Linked DNA regions of Homo sapiens. The protein of the gene in region 3 interacts with the protein of the main gene of each other region in a pairwise test. Each region holds a gene or a part of one and is shown on either strand. Other genes may lie near its edges.

Region 1 (7,919 bases), on a different chromosome or scaffold from region 3:
GAAGAGACAAAGTCACATTATCTAACGGTAAGTGTACAGTTAATAATATAGCTCTTCAAACTCTGTTCAAGTACAGCAGGTCCTCAACGCTGTTTGGTTGAACGTCACTTCGTCATAATGGTGATGAGAAAAAAAATCGATTCCAGGCCATGGCCACTGTCTGTGAGTAGTTTGCACATTCTCCTCATGTCTGCGTGGGTTTTCTCCGGGTACTCTGGTTTCCTCCTACAACCCACAGCTGTGCTCGCTAGGTTGTGTCTAAGCTGTGCACATATCTAAATATTCTCAGTATGCGTGAGTGTGGGTGTGAGTGTGAGTGCACCCCAGGATAGAAGGGTGTCCTGTCCAGGGTTACTTTCCTCCTTGAGCCCTGAACTCCGGCCACCTGCAATCCTGAAATGGAAAAATTGGTTACATGATCTTACTTGTTTTTATTAATCTTTCTCAAATGTATGTCTAGCTCACATTTATTTCAATGTTTAACATTAGAAGTGTTTTGGTCTTTATCTGGAAGTTTGGTGATGTTTTTGTGACCGGAGATATGCATAGGAATTTAACTCTTGTTTGTATCAAGTAGCCTATGGTGAAATTGTTTTCCTTATATATGCCACTTCGCTTAAAGTCACAATTTCCAAGAACATATCCCTGACATTAAGGACTTACTGTATCTATCATCCTGCTGACTAGTAACTTCCATACCAATAATTACTTAGGCACATAATCCCAGAGTCATTTGATTTAGGTTTATGAATTGTTTCACATAGACATTTGAGTTATGTTATGAACAGCCGCGAATTTCAACATCTTATTCCAATCTTATGAATCACTTTATGGAAGAGGACAATGTATACTTTTTTTTCTGTTTAATATGGGACTATTCAAACTTTAAATAGTAGAGATATTTAAATATAAGGACATCCATATTTTTGTGATATAATTGAATTTTCCCATTTGGTTATTGTATGTGTTTCAAACGGGAAATGAGTGGATACCATTTCTTTTTCTTCACCTTTTTTTCAGCTTTGATGCCACAGGAAGCCAGCTTGCTAGCTCCCTGTTACCTGATAGTTCCCTGACTAAAAAGACTCTTCAGTGAGGATCAGCATTTTACCCTAGACAGGAGTCGTGAATTTTCTTTTTAAAGATACACATATCTCTTAAAAGGGTCCAGAATATTTCCTGCAAAACTGTCTCTGTCATATGAGCACCTATTAGAGCCACTATAAGAAAAGCTAAGGAAACAAATCCATCTTTCCTGCAACAGAAAAAACACACACCCTAAAATGGGCCAAGAACTTGAACATCAGCAAGATTACAGACCAGGGAAAAAAGCAAATAACATTTTAACTGAAAATTTGATTTGAAAAATAAAAGCTTATCCATTGGTTCTCTCACTTCTTTCCCCACTTCTTTCTCACTGCTGGAACTTTGTGAAACATACAGATGATGGAGGAGCATTTGTGTCGACATTCTGAATTTCAATTTTTAATAATTAGGCAGATGGTTGGTTTGTGGTAAAGTCCATTATTGTACAGATTGCAATTTGTATCTAGTCACAAAATATAAGTTACTTTCCTAGGACGATTTCAGGATCTTTTCAGATAGGAAATATTACTGTAATTGAAAAACGACTTAACTTTTAGCCAAGAGCCCATAACATCCAGGTACCTCCGTGCCCCTATGAACTGTTTCTTTTCCTCTCGAGTCTTTATTGGTCATAGCCCTAGATTTCCCATCAAATTCAACCCGGCCTGAGCGGCAGGCAATGCCCCTGCTGGGTGCGGATTGCAGGCCCACCACTGGAGGGCGTCTGGACGCTTCTAAACAGCTCTGAAGCGCCTGGAAATCCCGTCTGAGGACTGGAAAGCGCAGGAGGGTGAACGTGAGATTTGATTTTATTGGGCTAATAAGTAAAAAGGAGTGCAGGCAGGTGTGGGAGCAAAAGTAAACTGCCTTTTTTCTCCTGGGGATCTGCCCTTCCCACTAAGGCAGAAAACTCCCTAGGGAACATGAGAAAAAATACCGCTGCTCCCGAGCCCGCGGACCCCTTAAGGGCGGGTCTCGGGGGCCTGTGGCCCCGCAGAGCAGGCGTCGGGCTCACTTCCTGGGCGCTGGACGACAGTGGGGACGCGTCCCGAGGCGCTGGGACAGTCTCGCTGCCAGGAGATCGCTCTTCAGTGGCGGCTGAAGACCAGGCTTGCAACCTGCCCTTGAAGTCCAGGACCGAGGGGCCTTTTCCAACAATAAAGGAACTGCTTTTCTTCCCACAGCCCCCGCCCCCGGCCCTCATTTCTTTCCGCACCGGGTTCGATAAAGGCGTTTATTCTTTGGGGAGTGGGCAGCAAATCACCCTCAAGGTTGAAATGGAAGAGGTGTGAGGTTATTTCTGAAGGGCTCGTCTGCCGCATTCATTTCCTCTCTGTGGAAGGTTCGCGCTGAATTGTAATCACTTTAAACTGTGATTTGCCTGATTTTTAAAAACGTGTTTTCAGAGCATCACTTTAAAGAAAACTTGCTTCCTGCCCAAGAATCTTTAAATCCCAAGTGGGAAGAGGAGGGCTGAAAGGCACAGGAGGGGTGCTCAGACTTCCAGATAACCCAGCGCCAGGCAGCGTGCGGCGTGGAGAGCGGGTGGAATGGACAGGAACGCGCACTCCCTGAGGCTCCGTTCCAGCCCATCCGTCACCTGCGGGGCACCAGAGACAGATGCCGGCTCTCCAGCCAAAGGGTGGGCACAGGTTCCTTTAAAATCGAAAGACCCTACTCCCAGGTAAAAAGATGTCAAATCATTCCTTAGCCCAGACGGAATTCAGCACCCAAAGGGTTACACGTGGCTGCCGGGCTCCGGCGCAGGAGAGGGCGCCTCGGCACTCCCAGTAATTCAATTAGTCAGGTTTCTAGAAGGTGGGGCGGGGGAGGGGGTAGGAGGCGTGGGGAAGGGAGATTAGGAAAACGCCTCTTTCTCGTGGAGCAAACCAATCCGGTTGGAGTAAAGAGAGAGGAAAAACCCCCAATCTGTAAGCAAACAGTAGGCCGTTCCCTGACTGGTTGCTCCAGCTATCCCCCCACCGCGCTCCCACCCTTCCCAAGTAAACTGCTTGGAAGGAGGAAAAAAAAAAAAAAAAAAAAAAAGACAGTCCACATGACCCGGGCCGCAGCGGCAGCAGCGCTGGCTGGGCGCGGGCTGGCGGCACCTCCCCCTGCTTCGTCCGGAGCTCACACCCGCGCTCGCGCCGCCCGCCCGTCCCGCGTCCCGCGCAACACGCCCGGGCGGAGCCCCATCCCCCCGCCCACGTCCACGTTCACGCGTGCGGCCTCGCGCTCTGCTGAGGCTGCTGCCACTGGGTCGCCGCCGCTGTCGGCTTTCCACGCAAGTCATTAACGAGGGGGCGTGCCCGAGGAGATTTTTTTTCCCATAAAGCATTTTTTCTCTCGCTCTCTTTTTTTCCCCCTCTTTTGCAAAACTGACTTTTACAAAACCCTTTCCACTTCTTGCCAGTCGTTTCAATTCCTCCTGGGCTGCTCGTGCTGCTGCTGCTGCACTCAAGTTTATTTATTTTCCCGCCTGGGTAGGGGTTTTAGGATTCGGTTTGTGGTTTTCACCTCTGTTGCTGCTGTGCCTAAGGAGGGAAAGAGGAGCAGCTGCGGGAGGATCGGGAAGGTTTTCTGATGTAGTCATCGGGGAGGTGCCACTCGCTCGTGCGCTTTTTTTTTTTCCTCTTTTCCCATTTCAAACTGATTGATGCATCTCTACAAGTTGCTAGGCTTGGACCCGCTGGAGTCGCAGGGACACTTCTGAGAGCTCACCCCGGGCTCTTGGCACCGCGTGTGGGGGCTCAGTCTCCCTCTCGGAAGGCGATCGGAGACTGACATCGGCCCATCCAGGAGTTGGAGGGATCCATTTGAAAGTGATTGTTTCCCCTCCCGCTCTCCAGCCGAACAGTTGGGTTGGCGTCGTCTTGCAGGTTTAGGAATCCCAGCTCTGCCAGGCCGGCTGGTCTTAACCTCTGCTCTTCATTCACTGTGGTGCACCCACACCCAGCCAAGGAAAGCACGCGCGAGAAATCCCCGAGGCTCGGCCAGCCCCCGGGGTGCCCTCTTCCGCTACCGCCGCGTTCCGACTCTGCTGGGGGACCTGCCGGAAGACGCGAAGAGCCAAACTTTTCTTTGAGGTTTTCGAGGCAAGACCGCTTCGAAAGCCGGCGCAGCTGCCGCTTAACCAGTTCCAGGACACCGACAAGGCTGGGTTGCGGCTCCGGATCCCCACCCTTCTCGGCGCACCGCCCGGTACCGCAGCACTTACGACTCCTCTGAGATTTCTGGGGGTCGCCCCGCTAAGGCACAGAGGAGGCTGAGGAAAGGGGTTCTCAGACTCCCGGGACCACAAGCGCGAAGCCCTCTATCAGCACGTCGCCCTTCTCCTGCAGTTTCCCACCGGCCGCCAAAGTAACTTGGAGCGAAGCGTGGCGCAGTGCGAGGGCCCCGGGCGGTGGCGGAGCCGTGCGTAGCCTGCTGCGCCGACGCTGAGCCGGGCCCGGCGGGCCGGTGTATGTCTCCCCGCGGCTGCGGCGCGCAACTCCCGGTGACTGTGCAGCGCGCGCCGCCGCCTGCCCCGACCCGCGCTGCAGCCGCCCGGCCCGGCGCGCACCTCCCTCTCCCGGGGTGACCGGCCTGCCGCCGCCGCCCGAGACACAGCTTGGCACCTCTTCCCCCGCCCTCGCCGCCGCCACCACACACACGCACGCTTCTCTCCATCTTGTGATTCCTTTTTCCTCCTGAACCCTCCAGTGGGGGTGCGAGTTTGTCTTTATCACCCCCCATCCCACCGCCTTCTTTTCTTCTCGCTCTCCTACCCCTCCCCAGCTTGGTGGGCGCCTCTTTCCTTTCTCGCCCACTTTCATTTTTATTTATTCATATTTATTTGGCGCCCGCTCTCTCTCTGTCCCTTTGCCTGCCTCCCTCCCTCCGGATCCCCGCTCTCTCCCCGGAGTGGCGCGTCGGGGGCTCCGCCGCTGGCCAGGCGTGATGTTGCACGTGGAGATGTTGACGCTGGTGTTTCTGGTGCTCTGGATGTGTGTGTTCAGCCAGGACCCGGGCTCCAAGGCCGTCGCCGACCGCTACGCTGTCTACTGGAACAGCAGCAACCCCAGGTAAGCCGATAACAGGCGGAGAGCCAGGGCTACCCGGGCCTCGGGGCCCTGCGGAAGGAGCGGCGGCGGGGATCGGCGCGCACCAACCGCTGGCGGCGCGCACCCTCGGAGCCTGCGTCGCCCGGGCGCTGATGGCTTGAGGCGTCGGCGGGAAGCGCTCGCGTCGCGCCCCTCTTTGTTAAGCCGCCGCGGAAAGGCCAGGTACCCCTGGGAGTCCCCGGGGCTGCCTAGACCAACTGCTTCTGCGGGGCGCCGGGAGACTCGGAAAAGGGCGGGAGCCGGGGAGTAGGGACTTCTCTGCTTCCCAGCCCCGGCATCTGGCTGGCATCCGGTTCCCGGCGCGGGGAGCCCCCAGTGTGCGCAGCCGGGAGCTCCTTCCTGGAGCGTGGGTCCGCAGGGACTGCGGAGAGAACCCGCCAAACATCCCCCAAAGTTTTTTTTTTTTTTTTTTTTTTTTTAATTTTAATTTTCCCTTCTCTTTTCCCGGTGCGCGCAGAGAGAGCGCACGGGCTGGGGGAAGTGAGGGGGGCTGGGAAGCGGAAGCTTTAGGTTTTTATTTTCCTCTTCAACTGCGAGGAAATCATTCGGCCCCTGAGTCAGTCTGGGCCCGGCGCGCCTGGCAGTGGAGAGGATTCTCCCATCTTCTCCATCCCTCCACCCACCCCAGTGGGTTCAAGGTGCCAGAAAGTTTGATCTAATGCCGGGTTACGTCATGTGTGCAGAACAAGCTGCCAGAGTTGGCCGAGCCAGGAGGTGGGAGCCCTTCGCCCGCGGCCTGGCGATGTGCTGCCGGAGGAACGCGCGCGATTACCTGGAACCGATTTGTAGGCGTCCCGAAGCCCGCCGGGTATGCGGGAGACTAGAGGTGGGCGCCGGGGGCGGTCCTAGTGCGCGTGCTGGACACCGGCCAGTCGCAGACGTCCCGTGTTTTCGGACCCTGGAAGTGGAGTGGGGAGGTTATCCAGAGTGCCCGGCGGGGTCCTCCGGGTCTGGAGCAGTTCCGAACCTTTATTGCTTCCCGGCCTGTGCACAGAAGTCGGCCCCGCTAGGCCCATACCGCACTGCTTTCTCTGGGACAGAGGCTAGCTTCCAGCTGTGTGCCGGTCTCGGTGCCCTCCTAGGTGCTATTTATTAATAGTACCGATTGCATCTAAAGTCACAGGTTTTTCACTGGGCTGGAGTGGAAGTTGGGAAGAGAGAGGCGGGAGGCCGAGGGGTTAGCCTAAGAGTTGGTGCGCGCCCCGGGCTCCAGGAGAGAGGGTATCGGTGGGCGCCTCCAGTTTTTTCTATCTCCTGCGGGCCCTCTCCGCCTGCCTCCAGCCTCCCCTCAGCATGCAGGCAAGAGAGGGATTCCCTGCTTGAATAATGTCAGCGCAGATGAAGATGGGAAGATTTCCCCACAAGCAGTCCGCCGGTTACAGAACCAGGAGGGAGTTCCCCCTATCCCGCTAGTCCAAGATAGTCTTACTCAGGTAGCCGCCCAAGTCCTAAATGAACCGCTGAACAGGAGTGGAGATATTCCTGAAAGTTTGGTTCAAAAAACAAGAGTCTCCTGGAGGTGGGTGGTGGAATGGGAAGCGATTTCTTCTTTGACATGCCACTTACCACTATTAGGAAAAGAGAAAAAGAAGCCATCCTGCCAGAGGAGAGATGCCTTTTATTAAAGCTGACAAGACAAATAGAGCAAGCTTTCCAGTTGTGATGGTGTTAAAAGCCAGTCTCATTATGTTGGTTAGTTTTTTTTCCCCGTTTGTGCTTTATTAGGCAGCATATACGAAGCAGAAATTTGTATCTCTGAACTTTAGCACCTTATTAAATAAAGCAACACTGAAATAGTTTCTTTGAATTTGGGATATCTTGCTCTCGGTTGTCTTTTCTTTCCCACACCAAGCTCCACATTGTGATCTTTTTCTCATGGCATTCATTTATTTGGATACTTGGGTGTTCCAGTCTTCCTGGGTTAAAACGGAAAGAACCAGCAACACCCCTACTTTAACCCCCCTTCTTAACCTGTCAAGCTAGTCTGAGTTAGTTTGAGGACATTTTATCTTAGGTTATCTCTGTTTTGTGCTTTTGATACTGTTGTTTGGTTTGAGATTAGCACATTGATTTTTGTCACAGGTCATGTTTTTTAATAGATCTGCCCTGCCTGCAGAAAACTCTTCTGCTCAGGATGCCATGGAGGCTTTGAACCTGCCCAGACAAAGTTAATCTGCAGAATTTTAAAATACCAAGAGTATTTCTAAATCGGTATTCTAACTTCAGGTTTGTAGAATTACCTTTCTATTTGATCATTATCAGTTTGATAATGGCCAAAAGAAAGAATGATGTACCCCTCTTAACCCCAAGAGATACAGCCCTAACACTTATTATTCTTAGGAATTTATGGACACATTTATCTTGGTATGTTATCACAGTTAAAAACTTACTTTAAAAACAATATTTTAAAAGTAGGCAGTTTTATCTCTGAAGTGTTGAATAAGATGTTGCTCTTTTGATGCATTAAGAAAAGTCAACTTGGATATAAGAGGCCACATGCCAAATAAGTATTTTAAAAATAAAAACTAACAGTTTTCCACAAACAATAGTAAGAAAATATTTCAGAAAATTTCCACGGGTTTAGTAAATTTTATAAATTCACTGTTGTGCAATTCCTTTTCCTGTATGTTATTTCATAAAGTAAGCTAGCCATGCTTTGTGTCTTTATATAGAACCTATCTGTTAAAATTTTGCTAAACTAGTAAGACTTCAATCTTTTGAAAAAAGAAT
Region 2 (7,297 bases), about 18 Mb from region 3:
GATGCGTATTTGTGGAGTGCCTTTCATCCCTTAGTTCCCTCATTCCACTGGGTCCATTTCCATTTTCTAGAACATTTTTAAAGTTCAGTAATCAAGAGTATAAATATTCTCAGAGTAGTGAAATTATTGCAAAGCATGGTGGAAGATGGGAATTTTCCCTTTATTTTTATGTATTTATTTTTGGAGATAGGATTTTGCTTTGTTGCCCAGGCTAGAGTGCAGTGGTGGGTCATGGCTCACTTGCACCCTCCACCTCCGGGTTCAAGTGATTCGCCTGCCTCAGCCTCTGGAGTAACTGGGACTGCAGGCATGTGCCACCATGTCTGGCTAATTTTTTTGTATTTTAGTAGAGATGGGGTTTTACCATGTTGCCGAAGGTGGTCTCAAACTCCTGAGCTCAGGCAGTCTGCCTGCCTTGGCCTCCCAAAGTGCTGGGATTACAGGAATGAGCCACTGCGCCCAGCCCTTCCCTTTATTTTAATGTGGAGGGGAGAACCAGTGGGTAAAAGTCTTAGGCTCCACCTAAGGAAATACTTCTCACCTTCAGATCGGAAAAGAAAATGGTCATTTGAACAGGGAGTGAGGCCCACGTCACAGCCACGAGGGTGTGCGCTTGAAAGAACCCTCAGAAACCATGACATGGTCAGGAGTGGGGTGTGCGGTGAGGCCAGGTCTCTCCAGGACCCAGTTCTGCTTGGCACCAGAGCCTTTTAATTCTCCTCTGAGTTGGATCTTGTTCCACCAGGGAGGTTGAGAGGTTGGCCTTTTCTTTCCATATTAATTTCCTCCTCAGTCATCAGACTGATGACATTCTGACCCTGCTGTGTAGTTTACAAAGCATATCAGAGCGTGTTGTGGGCCAGCCCAGGAGAGGAGCTGGTCATATCATTCATGGTGCATGTGTTGGGGAGGGGTGCTCCGGACGGCCTGGGCTGGTTTGGTGCTTGTGCAGTGGGGGTGGGGAAGGCTCTGGCCATGGGGAGATGCATTGCCCCTGGGTGGAATGTGGGCTGGCAGAGCCCCTGGGTTTCCCTCTCACCTGGTGGCCTTCACCCACAGAGGACTCTTTCATGTCCACTATTGGCTCTGCTGCTTCTGGCTGCTGGTGTCCTCTCGTAGTGGCTGCTGTGGGGCCATTTCTCTCTCAGACTTAATTTCATGGGAGCCACTGTAATAGGAGCAAAATCCCCAGGGTGTGGGGTTTGTATTGCAGACTGTGGCTCCAAGAGGCATCTCCAGGACAGAAGGGGCTTTGATATCTTCACCCATCTACACAGGCCTGGGCATTTCCTTGAGTCTCAGTGGGAGGGACACCAGCCATGGGATTTCCTCCTCTTTCCCCGTTTACAATAAAACCGTACTATGGAAACATCATATATGCATGCACCCGGTGCACTTCTGCAGACAGTGGGCTGTGTCTAGCTAAACCCAGCCTACTCTGCTCCAGCTGTTCCCCGAGAGGATTATAAGAGAGGTTGCAGACCCACCTGGATGCTCTGACCTCAGTCATACTGTGTGCCCCAGCTAGGGTAACAAGCCATCCTTCAGTTTGCATAAGACTGAGTAAATTCCCAGGATGCAAGACATTCAGTGCTGAAACCAGGACAGCTCCAGGCAAATTGGGACACTTGGTTATTCTACCTCGGCTGTTCTTCCTCCAGGCCTGCCACTCCATTGGAGTTTTGAGTCCAGATTTCTAGAATGTGCTGCATGCCGAGGAAGTCTGTCGGGGGGCAGGTGAGGGAGAGTGAGATGTCTTCTTTTCTTTTTCTTTTCCTATTCTTTTCCAACACATGCATTCACAGTCTTCACTGTGGCTAGCACAGGAGCCTCCATTGGCCAGCGCCGTATTTCCCTAAGCATTTGGTCTTGGCCCTAGGAACAGAGCTTTTGCTGTCTTTATTTGTCATCTCAAAGTGCATGGCCTTAAACTTGAGGTTCCCCACAGCACTTCACACTCAGCTGACTGCAGCAGGGCACTCTCTTCTGGTCATTTGTAAAGAACATCCATGGCTCCTGGACAAGACTCTTGCTTAGTAGTTGGCAAATGAGCAGAAGTATCCCCCTCCCTGCAGCTGATGTGTGTACCTGGGGCAGTTCCCATCCAAGTTCACATTACATCAGTGTTGGGATTCCATGTGTCTTGGCTTAGGAATCTTGGCACTCAAAGTAGGGGGCTTAGGAGCAAAAGAATCACACCTGTCCTGGAAGGAATGAGGGGGGCCTATCTGCTTGACTTCAAGGGACTCATTTCACTGTTTTTGTTTGTTTGTTTGTTTATTGTTGTTGTTGGTTTTCTGATGTGAAATGGAACAGGGGCAAATCTTTAAAGCTGGTGGAGTCAATTCCACAAACAAAACTTCCCTTCCTTTCTTAAGAGCTTTTTGTAGAAATCAGCCTTGCAATTAGCACTGCAACGTTCCAACCACTTAACACACTTCCCCACTGGCCTTTTGAAGCAAACAAGTATTTAGAAGCTGACAGGACAAAGTCACTTTATTTCTCCTTTTCCTTTACCTTGAAATTGTTCCTAGCCACAGGGCTGGCCACTCCTCACTGTCCAAAAAACTACCCTGATGCAGTATGCAGTGGCAGATCAGTTTAGTAAGGAATAACCCAAGTCACCGAATGCAAGAGAATGAAAACAAAAACAAAAACAAAAAAAACACCCTGTTGCATTAACGCAAGTATTCTCTGGGCTCTGTGTCTCTGGACGTGCATCTTCCAGAACCTGCAGGCGCGTGGCCTGCCCTCCACCTGCGTGGGAATGCATGCTGGATTTACATCCCAGTTACATCGCTTCCAGAAAGACAGGATCTCTGTTGGATGCCCATGAAGCTTATACTGAGTAAATATTGACAAAGTAGTCTAAAGAGCAAACACTTTGACATTTGTAAGGTCCACTGGAAGGTCTTGTATATATTTATACATCAGGAATGAGCACCGCATACCAATTTTCCTGAACTTGTTGTGACATAATTCTGCATGGAGAGTGTGTGTGCACAGGTGGCTGAGAACGGCTGAGTGTTCACATGGGGGACAGGGCTGGGGGCTGGGTGGTAGCTGGTCAGGGTATTTCCTCTCAACTGGAACGAACCCACACCTATCCCTGCCAGGAAACCTACCTCTAAGCTTTTCTGAGACCTGCTTTTCCAGAAGGAAGAAAGAAAAAAAAAAAGCCACAAAATCTTGTTTTTCCCTTATTACAATGGACGTACTTTTCTTTTTACTTGGTAAAAATTTTATTGATGTTTTTATACTTTATATTTATTAAAGATTGAGCCTCAAAAATGTAATGAGTAAAAAATGCTTGCTTAATTTAAATTGTGAATCTGTCTGTTAAGAAATGCATTAGGGGTAGGAGAAGCATAAGACATATTAATTGACAGACAGGAACTGCTGTCTCTGAGGTTGATACAAGTAATTTATTACTTTAGAAATGAATGCCACCTCCAGAATGTGCTTCATTAATTTCAAATTTAGTTTTAATTTCAAGCTGTTGCCCCTTGAGAAGAATAAGGTGGCAAATTATGTTTGAAGAGCAGATTTTTTTTTTTTTTTGCTCCAAAGAAACACCACATTTTAACTGTTTAATTTTACAAATACATGTACCCATCTGGGTTGCTGTGTTTTCCTGAGAGCCCAGAACATATTCTAGGTAAGATCAACAAGTACTAATGCTTTTTTTTTTCTTTCTCTCCTTCTCCCTGTCTCTCTTCATTCCATCCTACCTGTCTCTCTTTCCCACCTGTTATCATGGCAGCCTATGTTTCCGAAGAGTTAAAGGCTGCTGCCCTGGTGGACGAAGGTTTAGACCCAGAGGAGCATACGGCAGATGGAGAGCCCTCGGCCAAGTACATGTGCCCGGAGAAGGAGCTCGCCAGGGCCTGCCCCAGCTACCAGAACTCCCCGGCCGCCGAGTTTTCCTGCCATGAAATGGACAGCGAGTCACACATCAGTGAGACCAGTGACCGAATGGCTGACTTTGAAAGCGGCTCCATCAAGAACGAAGAGGAGACCAAGGAGGTCACGGTCCCACTGGAAGACACGACTGTGTCGGATAGCCTGGAGCAGATGAAGGCCGTGTACAACAACTTCCTCTCCAACTCCTACTGGTCCAACCTCAACCTCAACCTGCACCAGCCCTCCTCGGAGAAGAACAACGGCAGCAGCAGCAGCAGCAGTAGCAGCAGCAGCAGCTGTGGCAGCGGGAGCTTCGACTGGCACCAGAGCGCCATGGCTAAGACGCTGCAGCAGGTGTCACAGAGCCGCATGCTCCCGGAGCCCAGCCTCTTCAGCACCGTGCAGCTGTACCGGCAGAGCAGCAAGCTCTATGGCTCCATCTTCACGGGGGCCAGCAAGTTCCGCTGTAAGGACTGCAGCGCTGCCTACGACACCCTGGTGGAGTTGACGGTGCACATGAACGAGACGGGGCATTACCGCGACGACAACCATGAGACCGATAACAACAACCCCAAGCGCTGGTCCAAGCCTCGCAAACGCTCCTTGCTGGAAATGGAAGGGAAGGAAGACGCCCAGAAGGTGCTGAAGTGCATGTACTGTGGCCACTCCTTTGAGTCCCTGCAGGATTTGAGTGTCCATATGATCAAAACAAAACACTACCAAAAAGTGCCTCTGAAGGAACCCGTCACTCCTGTCGCCGCCAAAATCATCCCTGCCACTCGGAAGAAAGCTTCCCTGGAGCTGGAGCTCCCCAGCTCCCCAGATTCCACAGGTGGAACCCCCAAAGCCACCATCTCAGACACCAACGATGCACTTCAGAAGAACTCCAACCCTTACATCACGCCAAATAATCGGTACGGCCACCAGAATGGGGCCAGCTATGCATGGCACTTTGAGGCCCGGAAGTCGCAGATCCTGAAGTGCATGGAGTGTGGGAGCTCGCATGACACCCTGCAGGAGCTCACTGCCCACATGATGGTCACTGGCCACTTCATCAAGGTCACCAACTCTGCTATGAAAAAGGGGAAGCCCATTGTGGAGACGCCTGTCACACCTACCATCACAACCCTGCTGGATGAGAAGGTCCAGTCCGTGCCCCTGGCAGCCACCACCTTCACGTCCCCCTCCAATACACCTGCCAGCATCTCCCCAAAACTGAATGTGGAGGTCAAGAAGGAAGTCGACAAGGAGAAAGCGGTCACTGACGAGAAACCTAAGCAAAAAGACAAGCCTGGCGAAGAAGAGGAGAAGTGTGACATCTCTTCCAAATACCATTACTTGACTGAAAATGACTTAGAAGAGAGTCCCAAGGGGGGGCTTGATATCCTCAAATCCTTGGAAAACACAGTGACATCCGCAATCAACAAGGCCCAGAACGGCACTCCTAGCTGGGGGGGCTATCCCAGCATCCATGCCGCCTACCAACTTCCCAACATGATGAAGTTGTCCCTGGGCTCGTCGGGGAAGAGCACGCCCCTGAAACCCATGTTTGGCAACAGTGAGATTGTCTCCCCGACGAAAAACCAGACCCTGGTCTCTCCACCCAGCAGCCAGACGTCCCCCATGCCCAAGACAAACTTTCATGCCATGGAGGAGCTGGTGAAAAAGGTCACTGAGAAAGTTGCCAAAGTGGAGGAGAAGATGAAGGAGCCGGATGGGAAGCTTTCCCCGCCCAAGCGGGCCACTCCCTCCCCATGTAGCAGCGAAGTCGGGGAACCCATCAAGATGGAGGCATCCAGCGATGGGGGCTTCCGCAGCCAGGAGAACAGCCCCAGCCCCCCGCGGGATGGGTGCAAGGATGGGAGCCCCCTCGCTGAGCCGGTGGAGAATGGCAAGGAGCTGGTGAAGCCCCTAGCCAGCAGTTTGAGTGGCAGCACGGCCATCATCACCGACCACCCGCCTGAACAGCCTTTTGTTAACCCTTTGAGCGCCCTGCAGTCAGTCATGAACATTCACCTGGGCAAGGCCGCCAAGCCCTCCCTGCCTGCCCTGGACCCCATGAGCATGCTTTTCAAGATGAGCAACAGCCTGGCGGAGAAGGCTGCTGTGGCCACCCCGCCGCCCCTGCAGTCCAAGAAGGCAGACCACCTCGACCGCTATTTCTACCACGTCAACAACGACCAGCCCATAGACTTGACAAAAGGGAAGAGTGACAAAGGCTGCTCCTTGGGTTCAGTGCTTCTGTCACCCACGTCCACAGCCCCGGCAACCTCCTCATCCACGGTGACAACGGCAAAGACATCTGCCGTCGTATCATTCATGTCAAACTCGCCGCTACGCGAGAATGCCTTGTCAGATATATCCGATATGCTGAAGAACTTGACAGAGAGCCACACGTCAAAATCCTCCACTCCTTCCAGCATCTCCGAGAAGTCTGACATTGACGGGGCCACTCTGGAGGAGGCTGAGGAGTCGACGCCCGCCCAGAAGAGGAAGGGCCGCCAGTCAAACTGGAACCCCCAGCACCTCCTGATCCTCCAGGCCCAGTTTGCCGCCAGCCTCCGGCAGACCTCAGAAGGGAAGTACATCATGTCAGACCTGAGCCCCCAGGAGCGGATGCATATCTCCAGGTTCACCGGGCTGTCCATGACCACCATCAGCCACTGGCTGGCCAACGTGAAATACCAGCTTCGAAGGACAGGTGGAACAAAGTTCCTCAAAAACTTGGACACTGGCCACCCCGTCTTCTTTTGTAACGATTGTGCGTCCCAAATCAGGACTCCTTCCACGTACATCAGTCACCTAGAGTCACACTTAGGCTTCCGGCTACGGGACTTATCCAAACTGTCCACCGAACAGATTAACAGTCAGATAGCACAAACCAAGTCACCGTCAGAAAAAATGGTGACGTCCTCCCCCGAGGAAGACCTGGGGACTTCCTATCAGTGCAAACTTTGCAATCGGACCTTTGCCAGCAAGCACGCTGTTAAACTTCACCTTAGCAAAACACACGGGAAATCTCCGGAAGACCACCTTCTGTATGTCTCTGAGTTAGAGAAGCAGTAGCATTTGCTTTTGATAGAAAGGACTGCAGTTTGCTTTGAGGGAAACTGTGGAAGGCACCTTCAGGCCCCCTCTGACTTGTTGTTCTTGGCACATGTTCTTATTTTAACTGCAGAGAATCACTCTGGGCTGGACTGTTTTGTATAACTGTACAGTGTTTAATAGAGGTGCATAATCAGCTGTTGTTACTGGTAAAATATGAAGGTTAAAATGCAGTGGTAAGTGTTTGGAACTTTGTGTAAACGGGATTTAGTTGTGAGCATCCTCCCGATGCTTCAAGCTGCATGCATTAACAGACAGTTTAATTAAGCATTTATAACGGAATCAGGCA
Region 3 (7,844 bases):
AGAAGGAGACTTTGTCTCAAAAAAAAAAAAAAAAAAAGAAAGAAAAAGAAAAGAAATTAGGGTAAAAGTTACCCCTAGGAGAGTAGGGACTGGAAGGAGCCATGAGGAAGAATCTTGGAGGCAGGTAGTATGTTGTATCTTGATCTCGGTTTAGATAACACAGATGTGTTCAATTTCTGAAAATTCATAAAGCTTATCACTTATGATCTATGGACTGTTCTATATAAATATTACACTTCACTAAGAGTTTTGGTAAAGTCAAAAATCAGCAGTCAGCATAAAACAAAACCCAACTATATGCTGTTACAAGAGACATGCCTTAAATATAAGCACACAAAAAGATGGAAAGTTACAGGATGAAAAAGATACCCTATATAAACACTAACCAAAGAAAGCTGGAGAAATCTCTACATCAAAGTAGCCATTAAGGCAAAAAGCATTGCTAGAAGTAAAAAATGACATTTCAAGGTAATAAAGGGGTCAAGTCACCAGGAGGATATAACCATTCTAAATCTGTATGCATTTAATAATACAGCTTCAACATATATAAAGCAAAAATGACAGAACTGAGAGATGGAAAAATCCACAGTCATTCAGTACAAGAAGCAAACAGTGAAGATATTAAAGATTTGAACAGCATGATTGACAAACTTGACCTGACATAGCTGACCTGCAGGATACACACTCTGTTCTTTTCTTTTTTTTTTCTTTTTTTTTTTTTTTTGAAACAGAGTTTCACTCTTGTTGCCCATGCTGGAGTCCAGTGGCACAATCTCGGCTCATTGCAACCTCTGCCTCCCAGGTTCAAGCAATTCTCCTGCCTCAGCCTCCTGAGTAGCTGGGAAGACAGGCGTGTACCACCATGCCTGACTAATTTTTTTTTATTTTTAGTAGAGATGGGGTTTCACCATGTTGGCCAGGATGGTCTCAAACTCCCAACCTCAGGTGATCCGCCTGCCTCAGCCTCCCAAAGTGCTGGGATTACAGGCGTGAGCCACCACACCTGGCCTTTTTTTTTTCTTTTTTTTTTTTTGAGATGAAGTCTCGCTCTGTCTGGCCCAGGCTGTAGTGCAGTGGCGCGATCTCAGCTCACTGTACCCTCCACCTCCTGGGTTCAAGCAATTCTCCTGCCTCAGCCTCCTGAGTAGCTGGGATTACAGGCACATGCCACCACATCTGGCTAATTTTGTATTTTTAGTATAAACGGGCTTTCACCATGTTGGCCAGGCTGGTCTTGAACTCCTGACCTCAGGTGATCCACCCAACTTGGCCTTCCAAAGTGCTGGGATTACAGGTATGAGCCACCACGCCAAGCTACTCTTTTCAAATACACATGAAGCATTTGCTAAAATAGATGAAATCGTGGACTATAAAGCAAATCTCAACAAATGTCAAAGAAATGAAATCATATAGAGTATGTTTGTATGTTTTCTGACTACAGTGAATTAAGTAGGAAGCAATAATAAAAAGATAGCAGGGGGCCGGGCGCAGTGGCTCACGCCTGTAATCTCAGCACTTTGGGAGGCTGAGGCAGAGGAATCACAAGGTCAAGAGATCGAGATCATCCTGGCCAACATGGTGAAACCCCGTCTCTACTAAAAATACAAAAAAAAAAAAAAAGTTGGCTGTGGTGGTGCGTGCCTGTAGTCCCATCTACTCAGGAGGCTGAGGCAGGAGAATCACTTGAATCCAGGAGGCAGAGGTTGTAGTGAGCCCAGATCACGCCACTGCACCCAACCTGGCGACAAAGCGAGACTCCGTCTCAAAAATAAATAAATAATAAAAAGATAGCAGGGAAGTCATAAAATATTTGGAAAGTAAGCAATATATCTCTAAAAATTATCACTCAGGTCAAATTAGAAAATATTTTGAATTGATAATAATGGAAACGTGGCCAGGCATGGTGGCTCATGCCAATAATCCCAGCACTCTGGGAGGCTGAGGCAGGCAGATCACTTGAGGTCGGGAGTTCGAGACCAGCCTAGCCAACATGGAGAAACCCCCATCTCTACTAAAGATACAAAAATTAGCCAGGTGTGGTGGTGCATGCCTGTAATCCCAGCTACTCGGGAGGCTGAGGCAGGAGAATCATTTGAACCCAGGAGGCAGAGATTGCAGCGAGCCAAGATTGTGCCATTGCACTCCAGCCTGGGTGACAGATCGAGACTCTGTCTCAAAAAATAATAATAATAATAGAAATGTGGCATAACAAATGTGTCAAGTGTAGCTACAGAAGTTTTTAGAAGGCAAATGATGGCTCTAAACGCATGTATTAGAAGAGATCTTTAAAAATCAAATGACCTGGCTGGGCACATGACCTGGCATCAGCACGGTGGCTCACGCCTCTAATCCCAGCACTTTAGGAGGCCAAGGCAGGCGGCTCACCCGAGGTCAGGAGTTCAAGACCAGTCTGGCCAACATGGTGAAACCCCGACTCTACTAAAAATACAAAAAATTAGCCAGGCATGGTGGGGCACGCCTGTAATCCCAGCTACTCAGTAGGTTGAGGCAGGAGAATCGCTTGAACTCGGGAGGCACAGGTTGCAGTGAGCCAAGACCGCACCACTGCACTCCAGCCTGGGTGACAGTGAAACTCCGTCTCAAAAAAAAAATCAATGGCTTAATAACCTAAAAATATCAGTGACCTAAGCATTCACCTCAAGAAGTTGGGGGGAAAAAGCTGGAAAAAGAACAGCAGATCATGCCGGGCGCGGTGGCTCACGCCTGTAATCCCAGCACTTTGGGAGGCCGAGGCGGGCGGATCACGAGGTCAGGAGATCGAGACCATCCTGGCTAACACGGTGAAACCCCGTCTCTACTAAAAATACAAAAAATTAGCCGGGCGTGGTAGCGGGTGCCTGTAGTCCCAGCTACTCGGGAGGCTGAGGCAGGAGAATGGCGTGAACCCGGGAGGCGGAGCTTGCAGTGAGCCGAGATCGCCCCACTGCACTCCAGCCTGGGCGACAGAGCGAGACTCCGTCTCAAAAAAAAAAAACAAAAAAACAAAAAAAAAAACAGCAAGATCAGGGGCTTGAGGGCACATGGCTGTAGTCCCACCTACTCAGGAGGCTGAGGTGGGAGGATTACTTGAGCCCAGGAGGTGGAGGCTGCAGTGAGCTAGGGTCACATTACTGCACTCTATCCTGGGTGAGAACCTGTCTCAGAAAGAGAGGAGGGGGGAGGGGAGGGGAGGAAGGGGAGGGAGGAGGGGAGGCAGTGGACGCGGAGGGGAAGGGAGGGGAAGGGAGGGGAAGGGAGGGGAAGGGAGGGGGAAGGGAGGGGAAGGGAGGGGAGATAAAGGGAGGGGGAGGGGAAGGGAGGTGGGAGGGGAGATGAGGGGAGGAAAGTGGGGGGAGGAGAGGAGCAGAGGGGAAGAGAGGGGGAGGGGAGGGGAAGGTACGGGGGAGGGGAGATGAGGGGAGGGGAGTGGGGGAAGGGGAGGACAGGAGCAGAAGGGAAGGGAGGCGGGAGGGGAGGGGAAGGTACGGGGGAGGGGAGATGAGGGGAGGGGAGTGGGGGAAGGGGAGGAGAGGAGCAGAGGGGAAGGGAGGGGGGAAAAGAGAGATGGCACAAATTATTAATATCCGTCACCACAGATCTTACAGATATTAAAAAGATTGGGCATGGTGGCTCATGCCAGTAACCCCAGCACTTTGGGAGGCCAAGGTAGGAGGATCATTTGAGGGCAGGAGTTCGAGACCAGCCTAACATAAGACCGTGTTTCTCCCCCTCCAAAAAAAGACAATATTATGAACTTTATGCAAATTATTTGAAATTTTAGATAAAATGGAAAAATTCCTTGAAAACCACAACTTACCAAAACCACAACTTACCAGAAATAAAATAGAACATCTGAATAGTTGTATTTTTATAAAAGAAATAGAATTTGTAATTTAAAGTCTTTCCACAAAGAAAACTCTAGGTCCAGATGGCTGGTGACTTCTTCCAAACACATAAAAAATAAATAACATCAATCCTACACTAGCACTTTCAAAGAATAGAAAAAGAGAGAACACTTCTCCACACATTATATCAGCATAGCCTTGTTAACAAAACTCAACAGGGATCTCACAGAAAAGAAAAGAAAAGAAAATATGGCAATACATAAAAAGGACAGGCCAGGCGCTGTGTCTCACGCCTGTAATCCCAGCACTTTGGGAGGCCGAGGCGGGTGGATCGCCTGAGGTTGGGAGTTCGGTACCGGCCTGGCCAACGTGGTGAAACCCCGTCTCTACTAAAAATACAAAAATTAGCCAGGTGTGGTGGCGGGCGCATGTAATCCCAGCTACTCGGGAGGCTGAGGCAGGAGAATTGCTTGAACCCGGGAGGCGGAGGTTGCAGTGAGCTAAAATTGTCCCACTGCACTCCAGCCTGGGCGACAGAGCGAGACTCCATCTCAAAAAAAAAAAAAAAAGAAAGAAATGGGGGACGGACAAGGAGTCTCTCAGTTCAATTCCCCCTTCCTCAGCCCATTTCACCAAAGCCTGAAGCGGAAGAGAAAAACACGAGCCCCAGCATGGCGGGCGCAGCCACCCCCTCCTTCCACCACCAGACAAACTCCGTGGCCACAGCCCACACCGCCAGCGCGCATGCGTGACACGCGTCGGCCGCCGGTTTGCACCTGCGTCTTAAGAGGAGTCCGGGCGGGGAGGGGCGGGGCTCAGACGCTGCGCACGCGCACTCGCGACCCCTCGCCTCCTTTTGCTTTTTCTGGCGGGAAAAGCTCACGCGCACCTCCCCCAACTCAACTGCCGTTCGTCGTTCGTGGATGTCCGTTGTGTCCCGAGACTAGGACGTGGCTCCAGGTGCGCCCTGCCCCGCGGCGAGGTTCCCAGAATGGCCCTTCCCAGCCCCTACCGAAATCCTAGCGAAGCCCCCCCATATTGTGGGAGAGATACCCCTGCGTCAGGGCCCCCCAGATCCTGACCACTTGGGAGGCCGAGGCGGGCGGATCACGAGGTCAGAAGATAGAGACCATCCCGGGGAAGTGAAACCCCGTCTCTACTAAAAATACAAAAAATTAGCCAGGCGTAGTGGCACGCGCCTATAATCCCAGCTACTCAGGAGGCTGGGGCAGGAGAACTGCTTGAACCTGGAAGGCAGAGGTTGCAGTGAGCTGAGATCGCGCCACTGCACTCCAGCCTGGGTGACAAGAGTGAGACTCCGTCTCAAAAAAAAAAAAAAAAATCCTGACCACATCCCCTCAGATATACTGAAAGGAGTCCACCAGGAAATCTTATAGTTGACCCCCGAAATCCTGTCAGAATCGTCTAGAAATTGTCAGACTTCTCCCTCAGAGCCTGCCAGAAACTTTCCCCAAAATCCTATTACTCTCCCCAGATCAGCAGAGCCACCTAGACTCGTGTCAGAGATCCCCAGAAATCCTGGCAGGTCCCCTCCCAAACCCAGTCGGACCTCAGATTCCGTCAGAGAGCACAGAAGTCCATCAAAGACACCCCAGAAACGGAGACCCCGAAATGCACTCAGAGACCCCCGCAGAAATCAAGACCCTCCAAATCCAGCCAGAGACCCCCAGAAATCCAGTCAGACCCCTGCAGAAATCAAGACCCCCAAAATCCAGCCAGAGACCCCCAGAAATCCAGAGACCCCCGCATAAATCAAGACCCCCAAAATCCAGAGACCCCGAATAAATCAAGACCCCCAAAATCCAGTCAGAGAACCCCCAGAAATCCAATCAGACCCCCGCAGAAATCAAGACCCCCGAAATCCAGCCAGAGACCCCTGAAATCCAGTCAGAGACCCCCACAGAAATCAAAATCTCCAAAATCCAGCCAGACACTCCCCAGAAATCCAGTCAGAGACCCCCCCAAAATCCTGTCAGAGCCCTTGAAAGCCCGCCAAGGCCCACACCACCCAGAGCTCCTGCCAGGGCCCCATCCTGCTTCAGTGTCCCCGTCTCAGTCCCGTCAGACCCCCGAGATCAACCAACACCCCCGGGGTCCCTCAGGACTCCATCCCGAACCCACTCCGTGCGCCAGGGCCCAGCCAAGGCCATCGCCCCCCTTTGCACCCTGCAGGGTGTTCCAGACCCTGGAAGGGCCTCTCTTCAAAGACCCGTGTTTCCAGAACGGTGGCAGCGGGCTCACGTGGCTTGGGGAGAGCAGGCACTGGGGGAGCTGGGTGAGGACAGGCGAGCCCAGGCTCGACTGGTGGCCCCAAGGGGCGCCCGTGCCCGCTGTGATGATAGCAGCGCCCAGGTCTCTCTCTAGCCCCCAGAGTGCGGCCACTAAGGTTTTGGGTCGGCCTGGGTGGAATGGAGGCAGGATGGGGCCCCCCAAACTCCTGTCACTGCTGCAGGGACTGCCCAGAGCAGCTGCAAGTGGGGCTGGCAGGGATGAGGAGGAGGTGGCCTGGGCTTGGGGGACCATGTACATCCTGAGTTGGAACCCAGGGGAGCAGCAGGTTTGGGGCCATGATGAGGAGAGACCTAGGGGTTGCCCGACGGAGAGAAAAGGGACAGGAAGAGGCAGGAGCTTCAGAGACTACTCAATGCCACTCTAGCCTGAGGGACTGGAACTTAGTCCGGGGGCATTAGGGAGCCATGGGAGGATCAGGAGCAGGGGCAAGTCAGGATCAAACTCCCATGAGAAGCCAGCCGGCCAAATCCAGGCTGATGTGGCAAGAATGGCAGCTGCCCAGGGCTGTGTGGGAGCCAGACACGGCCCCTCGCTTCCCGGAAGAGGCCACGTGAAGCCGAAGCAGGATGCAGGAGGGCGTCCCAGGCAGAGACCTGGGCATGGGAGCGGTCCGCAGCTCAGAGTGGCTGGAGCATCATGTGCGATTTGGGGTGCTGAGGTGGGCGGTCAGCCATGCAGGGCCTTGGCGTCAGGGCCAGGGTCTCACCCGTACCCAGGATTCAGGGAGCCATGGAAGGGTACTTAGCAGGGGAGGGGCAGGTCAGCTCTGGGGCCCTGTGGGGACAGACTGGAGGACAAGCCTGGGGATAGGAGGCTGGGACAAAGGCCAGGGAAGAGGACCAGGCAGCCTGGACCGGCGGCAAGCCATGTGAAGAAAGGGAGGCAGTGACCTCCCCCACCCACCCACTAGCCCCTTTGATGTCAGCCACCTCGTTCTCCAGCCCACACCTCCAATCCATAAAACAGGTCAGAGCGGAGCTGCTCAGGTCACAGCGGGGGTGACAAACAGGTTGTGAGGACCCAGAGGTCCTGGGGCACAGGTGGGGCTAGGCAGGCCCCGACCCTTGGTGGCTGCTCTGAGGACACCATTTCCTGCTTCTCCTTCCAGGAGTGCTCGGGCCAGCTGGTCCTTTTCCCATCCCTCCCCATGAAGGAGGGAGGCTGGTAGCTTTGCCAGCAGCTGCGCCGCGGCAGGGGTGGCCCATGGACCTGCCCGAGGGCCCGGTGGGTGGCCCCACTGCGGAAAGTAAGTGGCTGGAACCCTATTTGCCCCGGGGAGGGTGAGGAGGGAGCCATGGGTGAATGGGTGCCAGGCTGTGACTCGGGGACTTGGGAGAGGTGGCTGGGGGTGGCTGAGCCTTTGCATGGGTGCAGAGTGGAAGGGAGGGAAGGGACTCTGGTAGATTAAGTGCCTACTCTATGCCCGCCCACCTGTCACTACCCCTTATCTCCTGTGGGGAGGCTGGACTGTGTGAGAGCGCAAGCAGCCGCACCCCTTACTCCATTCAGATCGCGGCCCAGATGGCACTTCTTACTTTATGTAAAGCAGCTGCCCTGTGACACTCTCTCCCCTGCCCCGCTTCATTTCTCTTCACAGTGCTCACATCTGTATGTCATGTTTTGTCTCTGTCTCCCCTGCTAGAGCATGAGCTCCACAAGGCAGCGTCTGTTTTATTCACTCTGGTA

What was found. The genes of interacting proteins can lie anywhere in the genome.
Region 1: the proteins of KASH5 (region 3) and EFNA5 interact in binary tests that used the Homo sapiens proteins (3 or more experiments, as listed by UniProt).
Region 2: the proteins of KASH5 (region 3) and TSHZ3 interact in binary tests that used the Homo sapiens proteins (3 or more experiments, as listed by UniProt).

Annotation. Positions count from the first base shown.
Region 1 is NC_000005.10:107,667,720-107,675,638, reverse strand, and holds the start of EFNA5 (ephrin-A5 isoform 1 precursor), read left to right. Parts: upstream 1-4,701; 5' UTR 4,702-5,025; coding exon 5,026-5,150; intron 5,151-7,919. UniProt on the Homo sapiens protein: Cell surface GPI-bound ligand for Eph receptors, a family of receptor tyrosine kinases which are crucial for migration, repulsion and adhesion during neuronal, vascular and epithelial development.
Region 2 is NC_000019.10:31,276,219-31,283,515, reverse strand, and holds part of TSHZ3 (teashirt homolog 3), read left to right. Parts: intron 1-3,763; coding exon 3,764-6,969; 3' UTR 6,970-7,297. UniProt on the Homo sapiens protein: Transcriptional regulator involved in developmental processes. Functions in association with APBB1, SET and HDAC factors as a transcriptional repressor, that inhibits the expression of CASP4.
Region 3 is NC_000019.10:49,383,523-49,391,366, forward strand, and holds the start of KASH5 (protein KASH5), read left to right. Parts: upstream 1-4,726; 5' UTR 4,727-4,805; exon of another isoform or gene 4,806-6,816; intron 6,817-7,055; exon of another isoform or gene 7,056-7,124; intron 7,125-7,266; 5' UTR 7,267-7,361; coding exon 7,362-7,404; intron 7,405-7,844. UniProt on the Homo sapiens protein: As a component of the LINC (LInker of Nucleoskeleton and Cytoskeleton) complex, involved in the connection between the nuclear lamina and the cytoskeleton.